Regions from separate parts of the Homo sapiens genome. Here region 2 is linked to region 1. Evidence: fine-mapped expression QTL. A gene starts in region 1. The other region holds a variant in brackets. All regions are shown on one strand. Distances are from middle to middle.

Region 1 (2,902 bases):
GATGGAAACCGGTGAATTGTAATCTCACATAACCGAGCAAGATCTAGTAGTCATAAGCACTTTGTCAGAGCAAAGCAGACAAGGCAAAGTGTTGGAAATGTCATCGGATCTTCACAGAACCTTAGCCAAGCAGCCTTTCAATGCGAGAAACAAAATAACATGGATTTTTATCTAGTAATGAAGTCAACACCATTGTCCACCCTGGGTTAACACATTCACATCTCAAAGCGAATGGGGCTGCAGACACTCGTGTTAGAGAGCCTTGGAATGTCCTGCCTTTTTACGTTTAATTAAAATTAAATAAAATATACAAAATTCAGTTCATCAGTTGTTCTAGTGGCATTTTAAGGGTTTAGTACCATATGTGGCTCATGAGTACCATCCTGGACAGCGTCGACCTAGAGCAGTTCCATCCCCGCGCAGAGTTCTGTTTGACGGCGCCACTCTGCACTTCCAGCAGCCTGGGGAGCAGGGGTGCAGGAGAGTTCCTTCTGTGTCACAGACTTGGTCACACAGTACAGATCTCAGATCAGCACTTAAACACGACTGCCAGCTGTCAACGGCGTGTTCTGTGGAATGCTGGGATGCATCACAGGTATGCTGGAAGATGTATAGAATTTTACTTCTGTTATTCTGGTAACTCAGAGTCCTGTTCAGTCAGTTTCCACGTCAGGTTGCTGTCCTGGTTTTAAAGAGAATGAACGCAGCCGAAGTTGAATCGAGGCAGTGATTTCACTCAGTGCGTTGGGTCTTTCCACTCACCTGGCCCTCCAGAACCCCAGGGCCTTGAGTGCATGGGCTGGTACAAGAGCCCAGTTTTTGGCTGGGGAGGCACTTCCTATGGGAGGGGGACGCCTGTCTCAGTGCTGAGGCAACCACCACCGAGGACCCTGGGCTGGAAGCTGGGCTGAGATGTCTGGTGGTAGGTTCTGAGGCAGGACAGGGGACCGACTCAAATGGATGATACGAACGGCAGGCTGGATTCACGTTGCTCCTGCACCTCCAGCATCTGCTGAGGACACCTAGAACTGTGGCCCTGGCCAAACCTCAGCTCCCTATTCCATGAAAGTGTGGGTCAAAGTGTGGGTGGTAGAGTGGGGCTGACAGTGGCCCCTAAGCTCCTAGGGTCCAGCCCACAACTGAGGAAGCCACACGGCTGGTTGTGTACGAGCCGGAGTGTCTCTGTTTGGTTGAAAGTGCCGGTCTGTGGGTCCTTGCTGGTGTGTGTGCTTCTGTCCCCGCCTCCTGGCCTCCTGGCTGAGGGGAAGCTGAGTGGGCCACGGCCCATGTGTCGCACTCGCCTCGGCTCCCACACAGCCGCCTCTGCTCCAGCAAGGATGTGGCTCTTCCACACTCTGCTCTGCATAGCCAGTAAGTCCTCTCACCCGCTGCTTCGAGGGGCTGCTGTGCCCTCAGCTCCAGCCAGGTGTCTGCAGACTACAGCCTTGACTGTCTGTCTCTGATGGGGCTCAGTTAGAGCCAGAGGTTAGAGAGTGGCAGCTCCTCCAGGAAAGGAGTCTTGCTCGGTGGGTCAGGGCCCCAGGCTTGTTGGGAAGGGCGGCTGAGGCTTCGTGTTGCCAGTTCTGTCAGCCAGGGCCTTTGGACTCCAGGGCTCTGCCATTCTGTTCCTCCTCCAGCCAGCCTCCCCCCGCCACCGAGGCCCTCTCCCCATGGCACCCACTTGGGGCAGGTCCTTGACTCTGTAGTTTGTTCTCTGAGTGTGGAGGCTCCGCCTGGCAGAGCTCCCTTCTGTTACAGAGCAGGGGTTGGGCTGATGAGGGTGAGGACCCTGTGAGAGAGTGTTGACCAGAGACTGGGGGCAAGTGTCTGTATGGTAGAGGGTGTGAGTGTTGGCAGGGAGCCTGCTTCCTGTGTTGTCAGGCCCAGGGTAAAAACTGGAATGTGGGGTGGGGGGAGGCACTTCTGCTGCCTGGGGGGTCCCATTTTAGCCTTTAACTGTCCCATGGAAGCCTCTGGGCAAGCCAAGCCATGAGTCCTTTCGGGGGCCCCCTGTGATGAGACAGCACGGTCAGGTGAGCCCCTGGAGGCTGCTAAGATTAAGCCGGAGGCCAGGGTGGTCCTGCCTAGTGATCTGAGCAGACTTCCCATGGGTCTCCTGCCCCTGCTCAGGAGGTTGGCCGGAGAATTGGATGGGCATCAAGCTTATGTGGATGAAAGGCTCCTGGTAGCTGAGTTCTCCCTGAAAGATGGGCTGAGGCTGTGCTGGGAGGGGACTTGGGATTAGCATCCCACCTGGGGCCAGATCACCCAGGAAGCAGGCCACAATGTGTAGGGTACCAGCAAGGAACACGTTTTTGGACAGATTTTAATATTTTATATTTCATTTTATTTTATTTTATTTTTTGAGACAGAGTCTTGCTCTGCTGCCCAGGCTGGAGCCCAGGCTGGATCTTGGCTCACCATAACTTCTGCCTCCCAGGTTCAAGCAGTTCTCCTGCCTCAGCCTCCCGAGTAGCTGGGATTACAGGCGCCTGCCACCACGCCTGGCTAATTTTTGTATTTTTAGTAGAGACAGGGTCTCACCATATTGGTCAGGCTGGTCTCCTGCCCTCAGGTGATCGACCTGCCTCGGCCTCCCAAAGTGTTGGGACTACAGGCATGAGCCACCTTGCCCGGCCTAATATTTTATATTTCAAAAACATCAGAATAGTCACCATGGAAAGGTCAACAGTTTGTTGAACTTCCTTTTATTTTACAATTTAGACTTCTCTGTTTTTAGTTACATGTGGGGTGTGGAGAGAGTCTCACTCTTTTTATGGCTTGTGGCTTTGATCTCCCATTACCAAGAATATCTGGAGCAGATGCTTAGACTAGACTCTTGTCTACCCTCTCCCAGTACAGAGGAGGTGACTGGGGCACAGAGCGGGCAGTGACTACCCAG
Region 2 (2,902 bases), 97 kb after region 1:
GGAGGCCTTCATGAAGGAGAGAGACACCTGTAAGCTGACCCTCGAAGCCATGAAGAACAGAGGAGAGATCCACCTGGGCAAAGGTAGGGAAGCTGGACACTGAAAACTATGGTAAAGCCCACGAGCCAAGCTGGCTGAGGCTGAGTGTGCAGTGGGGACTGTGTAGCTGGGAAGGCAGGTAGGACTGTGCATTGGATCCGAATCGTGTACAGGGAACTATGGGAAGACACGGGCATTCGTGGTATTTGATACGTGGGTTTCACACTCATTGCATTGCCACCATTCTCACACTCATTCTCATTGCATCACCACAGTCCTGGAACTTGGGAGTGGAGAGGAGCGGATGCGTGTGAGAAAGTTCACACATGCTGTGGGGGAAGCCAGCGCCGGGAACTGGAGTTAGAACAAGATGTGCGTAGCTCTAAGAGGTACCGTGGTAGACTTGTCACTGCTTTGTGGATTTGGTTGACTCGAGTTTGATTCTTTATCCTCTCTTTTTTTGAGACGAGAGTTTTGCTCTTGTTGTCCAGGCTGTAGTACAATGGCATGATCTCCGCTCACCGCAACCTCTGTCTCCCAGGTTCAAGCGATTCTCCTGCCTCAGCCTCCCGAGTAGCTGGGATTCCAGGCACGCATCATCACACCCAGCTAATTTTGTATTTTTAGTAGAGACAGGTTTTCTCCATGATGGTCAGGCTGGTCTCGAACTCCTGACCTCAGGTGATCCGTCCACCTCGGCCTTCCAAAGTGCCGGGATTACAGGTGTGAGCCACCACACCCGGCCTGAATCTTTATCCTTTTTAGTGCCCAGTGGACTAGCATTTGGCTCTTTACTCTTTCAAGTGTTTACTGTCTCAGTGGAATTTTCCTCAGTTCAAATATTGGGCGCTGGGTACTGAGTACCAACCCATCAATTACGGTGGGTCACACAAGGTGCTGATGGGCACGGAAGTGCCTCCCACAGAGAGGAGTGTCCTGCCTTCTGTTGACTGCATTTACATGGCGTTAATAATGCATCTGCCATTTAAGTGGATCAGTAATGTCTATTAATGGGATATGTCCGTCATGGAAGGACCTCAGCAAAAGGAAAAGGGCGAGTTGCCTTGGGAGGCTCTTGGTGAAACTCTTCCCGTACCACCCCTGCCCACTCTTGTCTCTCTGGGCCACCCAGCTCCTCAGGACTCGGCAGGAAGGCTGGGTCTGCAGCTGGCCCCCTTATCGCGGAATGACCTTCTGTGCCCCAGGAGAGA[T/C]TCAAATCTCCTCCTTCCAGGCCTTCCTGCTCCTTTGAGGTGGGAAATAGAATTCACCATAAGGAAGTAACATCTGAACCTCTACTCCAAGAACCATATGATTTTATGGGATTTGGGTTTTGTGTGGTTTTTTGGGTTTTGTTTGTTTGTTTTTTTGAGGCAGAGTTTTGCTCTTGTTGCCGAGGCTGGAGTGCAATGGCGTCATCTCAGCTCACCACAACCTCTGCCTCCTGGGTTCAAGCAATTCTCCTGCCTCAGCCTCCCGAGTAGCTGGGATTACAGGCATGTGCCACCACGTCCGGCTACTTTTTTGTATTTTTAGTAGAGATGGGGTTTCTCCATGTTGGTCAGGCTGGTCTCGAACTCCTGACCTCAGGTGATCCACCCACCTCGGCCTCCCAAAGTGCTGGGATTACAGGCGTGAGCCACCATGCCCGGCTGGGGTTTTTAAATGTTGTTTATTTTCTGTTTTGTTTCCTTTAATTTTGTGGGGAATGTTTTTTGGGTTTGTTGGAATCTCAGGCTAAGGGGGAGGTGTTATTTCACCCTCACCAGAGCTGGAGGGGAAGAGAGAACCCACGTGTCTTCAGAGGCTGCAGGGGTGACCAAGGGACACCTCCAAGCTGCTGCTGGGAACAGTGATGCTGTTGGCAACTCTCCTGCAGCTGACATTTTTCCTCTTGGAAGCACTTCATCCCATAGGGAAATGAGGAGTTTTCTTTTTCTTTTTTTTTAAAGTATCCCTCTGTGTCACCCAGGCTGAAGTGCAGTGCCATGATCTCAGCTCACTGCAGCCTCAATCTCCTGGGCTCAAGCAATCTTCCCACCTCAGCCTCCCAAGGAGCTGGGACCACAGGTACTTGCCACCATGCCCAGCTAATTTTTTAATGTTTTTTGTTTTGTTTTGTTTTTTTAGGTAGAAACAAGAGTCTCACTTCGTTGTCCACGCTGGTCTCTAACTCCTGGGGTCAAGTGATCCTCTCACCTCAGCCTCCCAAAGTGTTGGGATTGTAGGTGTGAGCCACTGGGCCTGGCCTCGTTTGTTGTTGAGTTTTTCTATTTGAGGAGTAATTCCCCTGTCTCTAAAGGCTCAGCCCATTGCACCATACATTCTCGCTTTTCATCTATAAAATGTGTAGAAGGAACAGATACTGGTGTGGGGAAAGCTTGGGATCAGAGGCAGGAGAGTCTGGTTTCCCCCAGGTGAGGCCCCCAGCACATTTCTTTGGAGGAGGGGAGGGCTCTGTCTGAGGCTCCCTCGTAGCTTTTACTGGATACATTTGGGAGTCCACCAGGATTTTATCAGAGACTGTCCCAGGTCTCAGAGCAGACCAGGATGTCCCAGAGTGGGTCCAGACCACAATAATAGACTTTAAAATGCTGGCAAGTCTTAGGAGCAAGGGAGATGATGTAAAAAGAAAATGGCAGGCTGGGTACAGTGGCTCACGCATATAGTCCCAATGTGTCTGGAACTGGTTCCTTCCGGTGGGTTCTTGGTCTCGCTGACTTCAAGCATGAAGCCATGGACCCTCGTGGTGAGTGTTACAGTTCTTAAAGATGGTGTGTCTGGAGTTTGTTCCTTCTGATGTTCTGATGTTCAGATGTGTCCAGAGTTTCTTCCTTCCAGTGGGTTCATGGTCTCGCTGACTTCA

Direction of the effects. Alleles are on the strand shown, and positions count from the first base shown. SD is a standard deviation of normalised expression in the study named.
For the expression in platelets of the gene that starts at base 1,294 in region 1, allele C in region 2 goes with a higher level than allele T (large effect, 1.0 SD a copy in CEDAR).

Evidence for each region. PIP is the estimated chance that this variant, and not a neighbour inherited with it, causes the effect.
Region 2: its variant is fine-mapped to the expression of ITGAE in platelets (CEDAR, PIP 0.95).

The regions. Positions count from the first base shown.
Region 1 is chr17:3,799,580-3,802,481 of GRCh38, reverse strand. ITGAE (integrin subunit alpha E) reads left to right here and starts at 1,294. Exons shown (of 31, transcript NM_002208.5): 1 at 1,294-1,371. The coding sequence starts at 1,338. NCBP3 (nuclear cap binding subunit 3) reads left to right here. Exons shown (of 13, transcript NM_001114118.3): 13 at 1-324.
Region 2 is chr17:3,702,607-3,705,508 of GRCh38, reverse strand. It overlaps a transcript of P2RX5 not described here. Among named protein-coding and RNA genes, the nearest start is that of P2RX5-TAX1BP3, 7.7 kb to the right of the region's middle. The variant T/C (reference allele first, on the strand shown) is at 1,251.